Linked DNA regions of Homo sapiens: region 2 is linked to region 1. Evidence: fine-mapped expression QTL. A gene starts in region 1. The other region holds a variant in brackets. All regions are shown on one strand. Distances are from middle to middle.

What was found. PIP is the estimated chance that this variant, and not a neighbour inherited with it, causes the effect. A credible set is the group of variants that fine-mapping cannot tell apart.
Region 2: its variant is the best candidate, but not a certain one, in a credible set for the expression of TEX26-AS1 in aorta (GTEx, PIP 0.74).

What each region holds. Positions count from the first base shown.
Region 1 is chr13:30,930,843-30,935,233 of GRCh38, forward strand. TEX26-AS1 (TEX26 antisense RNA 1) reads right to left here and starts at 1,766. Exons shown (of 4, transcript NR_038287.1): 1 at 404-1,766; 2 at 1-32. It overlaps TEX26 (testis expressed 26), which reads left to right and starts at 1,814. Exons shown (of 7, transcript NM_152325.3): 1 at 1,814-1,934. The coding sequence starts at 1,874.
Region 2 is chr13:30,896,886-30,901,276 of GRCh38, forward strand. All of the region lies in intron 2 of TEX26-AS1 (TEX26 antisense RNA 1), which reads right to left. Among named protein-coding and RNA genes, the nearest start is that of MEDAG, 7.2 kb to the right of the region's middle. The variant TA/T (reference allele first, on the strand shown) is at 2,519.

The DNA.
Region 1 (4,391 bases):
TTTGGTTCCTACCGCACCATTTCACAGCTTGCCTAAAATGAGACAAATTGTAAGATATTAATAAGAATTCACTTTCAAAATTCTATATACTTGCTGCTCTATTTTAAACATATATTTCTCTTAAATTATGCTATGCTAATTAGCTCTACCATTTCCAGACAGTAATCTGTTATTGGGTGCTACTTTTTAAATTTAGATGCCACTACTAAATCCTAATTTAGACTCATTCCTTTTAATAACATCTATGCCTTCTAATGTGTTCCACCCTCCATTGCTTCAAAACATGAGAGTTTATAATGTGTTATATTCATTCCATTATATGGATAGAACTCTACCTTCAGGAAATTCTAGTTTAGCTCTTCATTTTAAAGACATTCCTTGCACATATATTTGGGATCCTTACCTTGATGCTTTTTCTGTCTCCTTTGATAAATTCCTCCTTTGTCACACTGCACTGTTTCTCTGAGGTCTTGTATTAGAATAGCCCCTTAAGAATAAGGAACTGTTGTAAATTGCTTTGTAAACAGGTTGCCAGCCAACTCCAAAATGTATTTCCTGTCTTCTCTTTTCACCCAAGTGGGTAATAACTGTGTTGTAACCTGGAGACAGTCAGTAGTTACTAACCACCTAGTATGTCAAATTACCAGGTAAGGTTATCCAGCAAAAGGGGCTCACTGCACTAGAAGCCAACACTATGACACCAAGTTTTTGAGAAAAGGAAAGCTTCACATTGCAAGTTAACTTCTGAGGAAACAAAAGTCCAGTTCAAATCTGTCTTGTACTGGCTTTAGGGCAGTAATTTTATTACAAAAGGTTTAGGGTTGGATCCTGGGGTTAGCAGGTGATTGGTGGAAGCAAAGGGAACATCTGGGAAGTCTTCAGGCATGCATGGCTCTCTCTTCATGCTTCCTGGTGGGTCCCATGTGCAAATTTGGAGGGAGTTGGTATGAAACATGCAGTAGAAATTCAGGCTGTGACATCAGCAAGCTTGCTGTGCGCAAACTGCATTTGGCCATATTGATTCCGGCTGATTTCAGTCAGTTTTGTTATAAGCAGAGGGAGTTTCAGCAAATTGTTTCTTTTCTTATCTGCCCCTGAAAACAAGAATTTCTGTTAGTTATTGGTGTCTTTGACTCTTTGAAACAGTTTCAGTAGTTCCCAAGATATGAAGATAAAAGACCCCCTTCATCAGTGAAAACTCTTACAAGGGGATGAAAGACACAGCTTCCTCTATGAGAGCACAAGAACAATTAAATTGACCCTCACAAACACTATGGTTGGTGCCAGGAACGTGGCCTGGTGAGGAGGACAGTGTCACATCCTCCCTGCCCACTCCTGTTTCCACGCGTGCATTTCCTCTTCTGCCCCTCTCCTAAGCCAGGATGACCCTTCTGACCGCGTGGAACTATCACAGAAACTGCTTCCATTTATACCAGATGACTTGGGATTCAGTCTTCTTGCTTGGTTTTTATTGACTGCAAAAATCCATGACAACTTTGCGCACATTTGCTTAAGCTGAAAGCAAATGGATGAAAGTTTGTAGTTGAAAATCTACTTTCTCTTCAATCTCTTCCCTTTTTGCTTTTCTTAGGAAACATACAAGACAGTGGTCCGGAAAGCTCACTGCAAGAACTGTACAAATAATGTAAAAGTAAGGCATCCATAAGATCAAAGCCACATTTCTTTGCTCTCTGCACCCCATTCCCGCGCCGGCCAGGTTAAGCCTCCTGCGTGGCCAGCACCCCTTGGCAGGGGCAGAACTCCCTGGAACCCGATCCTTGTCTCCATGGCGACGCGTCACAAAGCAGCCCGCGGCTCCCGCAAGCGCTGAGATAGCTGGAGCCAGGGCCCCGCGGCCGCCTCCTGGGGCAGAATGGAACAGCCTGGGCCCAGGGCTCCGGATCCCTCTCTCTGCCACCACAACCTCCAGCCAAGTAAGACAGCAGACTCTGCCGGTCTGCGGGGCGGGGCTGGGGTCTTTCCCGGGGAAAGGGTCCTGTTGAGAAAAAGGGGCCTTAGTATTTAAGGGTGTGGCATCGCTCTTAGGAGTATGCTCAACTGAGGAAAAGACGGGGAGTCAGGGAGAATGACAGGGCCTTCATGACGCTGCCCCTTTTCAGTCCTTCGCATAACCTTTGCCAAATCCCCGCTCCCTAAAACGCGCAGGGTTTTTAAACACTCGAGGAAGTGCCTGGCTAAGAGGGGACAGGAAAAAAGGAAGAACTGGTGATTTTCCAAGGAAAACAGGGCCAAAGGCAAAGAAGAAAGAGAAGTCCTGGAAGCTCTGAAGAGAACAGGTCCTGCCTGAGTCCCGATCCCCATATAGGATCTTGGAAACAGCAAGGAAAGTGGGGGAAGGGTTGGCTGCTGAATGGAGTCCCAGCTGTGTCTGCAGAGGCAGACGCCCTCCCTGGGCTGTCGCACCAGGCTGGGAGCCATGGCCTTCAGCTGCCGCCTCTAACCTGAATTGATTTTTCTTCCACAGAGATTTTGTATTTCACAGAGGTAGTGCTTTTCATCCTAATTCTGCCCACAGATGCAGCAGGTTCACCAGTTCAGCCTTTTGGGTCTGTGGAGGGAGAACCACTCTAGCTGTGACGCTAGTGGCATGATTACCGTGTAGTCAGCTCCATCATAGTCTCTTGTGGCAATAATTGGCCATTGCTGCTGTATAGTTGGGTAACTGTGATTCCACAGTGGCTATGGAGCAGTGAAGGATTGTTCAAGTACAAATTCCCTAGAATTGTGCTCCCAAAAGAGTGAATGAAATGCATATTTTCATTCCAATTCATTCCGTTGTAAATTAAGAATGGAAAATGAAAATACTTAATTAGTGCAGAAAATATCTAATACACTCAGTTTCTATATGATGGGAAGGCAAACAGGAGAGACAGAGGAGGGAGGATCCCCTCCTAGCATCCCGACAGCACCCCTTTGGATGCTTCTCTTCCCTTTCTAACCACCCTGTTTTCCCACTGTCTCCCCATTTCATCCCCTTCTTGTCTGGGAACTGTTGGAGTCCCCCAGGATTGATCCTTCTAGGCTTACCTTCTCTTTGTGACCATATCCTGCACAGGGCTTCAAGTGCTGCATAAAGGTGCCAACAACTCTCTAACCTTTATCTCTGACTTGGACTTTCTTCCTACTTTTTCAGACCAGAATATCTAACTGTCTACCAGACAGTTCCATGTGGGTGTCACAGCAGGGCCTCCAACTTGACATGTGCAAAATCACACTCCTTGTCCTCCTCAAACCTTCCAGACTTTGAGAGTTCAGTTAAGAGGGTCCTAGCTGCTCAATTTAGAAGGGAAGGCAGCTTCCTTGAGACTGCAGTTTGATCACCAGGTCTCTTTGATTCTGCCTCCAAAGCTCTTTTTCCCCCAGGTGAATTCGCCCCTTTACCTCCAGGCTTGGGCCTCTAATGGCTACTCTGTGCCACTTCATTCCCCACTGCTGGGAGAGTCACCCTCCAAATGGTAGGCTTGATGTGTCCCCACTGCCCAGGTTTGGTCCGAAATAGGATGAGGTTGATGGTGACTGATGACTAACTGTTATTGAATAATTACTACAGATGGGGCTCTCAGGTGTTGTATTAGTTTCCTGTGGCTGCTATGTGTTCCCACAGACTGGTGGATTCAAACAACAAAAATGTATTTGCTCACAGCTCTGAAGGTCGAGAGCCTGAAATCAAGGTCTGGACAAGTCTGCACTCCCTCTACAGGCCCTAGGGGAGAAGTGGTCCTTACGTCTTCCAGCTTCAGGTAGCCATCGGCACTGCTAGTGATGGCAGTGGCTGCTGCCATCATGCTGGCTGCAGCAGGGAAGCACAGCTGGGGCTGCAACACTCCATGGAGCCCGTGGGAGCTGCCCCTTCTGAGTTGGGATGGGAGCTCCCTGTGCCGCTACAGCCGCCCAAACTGCAGCTACAGACCCAGGCCTCCTGCTCTATGGAGCAAGCAGGAGCCCTGCAGTCCTGGGCGAGGCTACAGCCACCCAAACTGCGGCTGTGGGTCTGAGCCTCCCTGTGCCTCTGAGCCTCCCTGTGGAACCCACGGCTGCAGACCTGGGCCTTTCACTCCATGAAGCAGGCAGGAGCCAGGGACAAGTGGGAGCTTTGCCTCTTCCAAGTTGGTGGGGCAAGAGCTCCCTGGTGCAGCTGCAGCTGCCCTCCCAGGCACAGGACCTGGGCATCTCTGCAGCCTGCACCCTTGGACTCCCCAGGAAGGACACCCTTCACCCATCCATCCCTGCAGGCTCAGGGGTATCTGATCCCACTGCCAGGCAATACCCCACCCACATCCCTGCAGGCTAAAGGGTATCTGCTCCCACTGCCTGGCCTCTCTCCACTGGCTCTGATCTCAGAGTGGGGTTGGGACCAAGCCCCAGGGCTG
Region 2 (4,391 bases), 34 kb before region 1:
ACTTTAAGTTCTGGAGACAGAGAAGGGTGCTGAGGGTTGCCTAGAGAAGACAGAATAACTTACTCTAAATTCCAGTTTGGTCTCTAGAGCGGGGAGTGGCAAACCTTCTTTGGAAAAGGGTAAGCAGTAAACATTTTAGGCTTTAAGGACCAGAGAGTCTCTGTTGCAACTGCTTAGCTCTGCTTATGTAGCATGGAAGCAGCCATATGTAAACAAATGGATGTGGCTGTGTTTCAATAAAACTTTATTTAAAGACTTTGAAATGTGAGCTTACTTTGTATTATTTTTGCATGTCACAAAATTATTACTCTTCTTTTGTTTTTTTTCAACTATTTAACAATACTACCCAAAATGAGCTACAGATTCAGTGCAATCTCTATACAAATGAAAAAACATTCTTAATCATGGTCATACAAAAATAGGCAGCAGGCTGGACTTGGCTGGTGGACCATACTTTTCCCACTCCTGTTCTATAGTCCAGAGAGATGTGAAGAGTGAAGCTTTTCATCTTTTCCATCTTGTCAGCTCAGCTGCCTTGGGTAGGAAGGGGTTTATAAAAAGTGCTTCTTCACTGCATCAGCTGTATGGCTGGGCAAGTTACAAGTCACTGGCACTCCGTGTGCCTCTTTTTCCCCTTCTATAAAATGGGAATATAAATAGTTCATAGTTTGGAGGAGTAGATAAAATCATCCATTGAAGGCACTTAGAACAGTGTCTGACATGGGGAAATCTTCACTAAATGTCAGCCATTCTCATTATGGTTGTTGTGGTTGATGCTGTTTGTCAGTGGGGTGGAGAAAGACATGAAATCCAAGGAACAATTTGGCCCTTTGTTCCAGGAGCAGCAATAATTTTGACAATACTACGGGATTCCCTGGGTTCACCCCTTGACTTTCCGAATCTGCCCATTTTAGGGTGTGAATCTTTAGAGTTGGATGGGTCTTCTAGTGAAACCCCCTTTCTAAAGCCAATCTTATCTGTAGACACCGTTACTAAGAGCCATCCCTCGGTTTTTTAGTCTCTTATAAGATAGTCAGGTGCAACCACAAGAGGAGATGCAGGAGAGGCTCAGGGAAAAAAGAAGCCGATTATACTCACAGGTCCTAGGGACAAGGGGCACACACACTGTGTTGGTCCATATGAGAAAGACACCAGGGTGGAGCTCGCAGAAGATAGGATGAGGGGGAGATTTAAGCCATAACCTTTGTTGGGGTTTCTGGGGAAAGGCAAGGCAGGGCAGGGTGAATGGTTTTGGATGGGCTAGATTGAATAATTCTGGCAGGCTTTTGGCTACAAAGAGGGGTCTCTGTTGCTGGCACCTGGTCCTGGGATGATGTAGGCAGAGGAATACTGCCTCCTGGGATGCACTGGCCAGATACAGGAGGTCTGGCACTGCACTGGTTAGTTTGCATATCAAAGACATGCTTCAGTCTGAGTCCTTTCTCTAAGAATTGGCCAGATCCAGGAGGGGCCATCTCTCACCAACCAGAAAGGTTTTTTAAAATGCCAAAACATCACAGCATACAGAAAATTTTAAAGTCTTTGCAACATACCCTCTCAAATGTGATTTCAACTGCATCCAACCCCATTAAAAGTTCTAGATGAGCCCTCAGTTGTGTCCTGTACCTAACCAACACTCCTGTTCTTAGGCTTAGAGACCCTCCATCCTTACTTTCTCCTACATAACTGGCTGTGCTCGTGTCCGCCTCCTAGGTCCTCCATCTCCTCCTCCAACACTTATTGACCACTAGTAGCTGGCTTGACTTGAGGCCCCTGGAGACAGGGAACAGGTCTTAGGCATCTTGGAGTCCCACACTCCTAGCCCATGCCAGCATTCCATCAGTGTTTGTAGAATTGAGTGGTACCCTGGTTCCCACACGTGGTTCACATTAACAGACTCACTCTTCTCCAAAGTCACTTGCGCCTCCTCCAGACGCTCCATGTACCGGATGGTCCCAGCTGCTGCAATGTCCTAACCTACATTTGCCCCAGTGCCCCACAGCACTGAGCACCCTACCAGCAATTAAAGAGGTTTAACCAAAGTGCAAAAGCACATACGTAACCAGGATCAACTGACTGGCCTGGGAAAGCTTCTGTGTGAACTCTGCCACCAGAAGTGAGTGTTTGTTTGGGAAGACAGGAAGCAGTGAACTCAGAGAATAACACAGGCAGAGCCCAATGAGGTAAGCAGAGGGAAGGAAGTAAAATTTTCCATTCTAGTTTAGCCATGACTAAAGTTGTCAGGAATCAATGCAATAACTTCGAATTTGAACGTATTTGCATGAGTGGATCTCTGCAAATCTGGGCTTTTATTTTCCCATATGTTCCTACTTTAGCTTTCACAAGACTTTTTACAGTTACAATTGCAGAAGAAATGATCTGAGACATGTTCAGATATATTTTGTTCATTTATTTAACAAACACTCAATAGTGCTTATTTATGCCAGGCACTGTTCTCAGAACTTTATATATAACCATGACTCAATGCTGCTTTCCATTCATTTATTCATTCATTCAA[TA/T]AAAATAAATATGATATCTTCTGTGAAACCACATTGTACCAGGAATAAAAAGGCATAAGATGCTGTTTTCTTTTCTCTTGGGCTTAGAGGGTGAGACAGACAAGTAAATCAATAACACAACACTTATAGTACAGGATGTGGTAAGGGGACACACAATATGTATCATTTGTCCTATGGGACAAGGAGGAAGGACACCAAAATTAGCCTTGAGTAGGTGATGTTGAAACTGGGTCTTAAAAGATGAGTGAGGGGCTGTGAAGACAGTAGGAAGCTGTGTGGCAGGAACAGCTTGTCCACAGCATCAAGGGAAAGCCAGCTGCACCCTCAGGGAGCTGCAAGCCATCTTCCACAGCCTTAAGCAAAGGCTGTGTATCTGAGCATGAGGAAGGGGCTTAGACAGCTTGGGCAGCCATCACAAAGTGCCACCAACTTTGTGTCTTAGTCTGTTTATGCTGTGATAACAGAATACCACCAACTGGGTAACTTATAAAGAACAGAAATGTATTTGCCTCACAGTTCCAGAGGCTGAGAAGTCCAAGATCAAGGTGCCAGCATCTGGGAGAGGCTTCTTGCTGTGTCCTCCTGTGGCAAAAGGTGAAAGGATCAGAGAGAACCAGACTCACTTTTATAACCCACTGTCCATAACAAACCGGCTCCTGAGATAATGACATTAATCCCTGCATGAGGCAGTGCCCTCAGGACCTAATCACCTCTTATTAGACCTCACTTCCCAACACTGTTGCCTTGGGGATTAAGTCTCCAATCCACGGACTTTGCTTTGAATTGGTTTGACACATTCAAACCAGAGCAAGATGCAAGTTCAGTTTCCGATGAGGGCTCTCTCCCTGGTTTGTAGATGGCTGCCACCTGCTGTATCCTCATGTGGTCTTTCCTCTGTATGCCCACAAACTCTGGAGCTGTTCTCTTCTTATATGGGTGCCAGTCCTATGGGATTGAAGTCCCACCCTTATGACCTCATTTGACCTGAGTGAATTTTCTAAACTATCTCCAAATACAGTCACATCCTATGGTGCTGGGTGTTAGGACTTCAGTATATGAATTGCTAGGGGGACGTGGGTAGGAGGGATTGGGAGAGAGGAGACTGGTATGAAGGCTACTGAGATAGTACTGAGAAAAAGTGGCAGAAAGCTAAGCAAAATCAATGGCAGTGGGGGTGGGAAGGAACCAAGAGATTCCTGAGATTTGTAGAAGGCAGAGTCAGTGGGTGGAGGCACCCAGTTGGCTAGGAGGACTGGGGTGGAGGAACAGCAGAAGAGCGTAGGGGTGGAGGGAGGAAGTGAGAGGGTGCAGTCTAGGATGCCCTCACAGCGCTGGATGGAGGGATAGTGATGCCTCCCTGGGATGAGAAACACAGGAGAAACAGCACATTGGGCAGGAGGAAGACGATGAGTTGCAGGTGCCAGGGGGAAATCATGTGGAGAGGTTAGCAGGAAGTTGTGTAGATTGGTCAGAGAGCCTGACAAGAAATCTGGCCTGGAGCTAGAGATTCAGACATCATCAGCTTGTAAGTGGTCATCAGAGCCAAAGATTTGGACAAAGTCATCCAGGAAAGGTGGACAAGGACAGAACTCTGCAGTTCAGGAAAATGAGTGGCCTGAAATGAGGGAGAAAGAGTGGGAGAAGACAGGGAGCTGACACTATTACTCGAGAACCGGGCACTGAGCTAGATGCTGTGAGTGGGCGGTCAACTCATTGTACTCTTACAGAAGTCCCCTGATGTAGGCATCAAACAAACACTTACATTGCACTTACTATGTGTCAGACAATTCTTTGCCATAACACATCAAATCCTTACAAACCTCACACTTCACATATGAGGAAACTGAAACACATAGGAGTAATGTGTTCAAG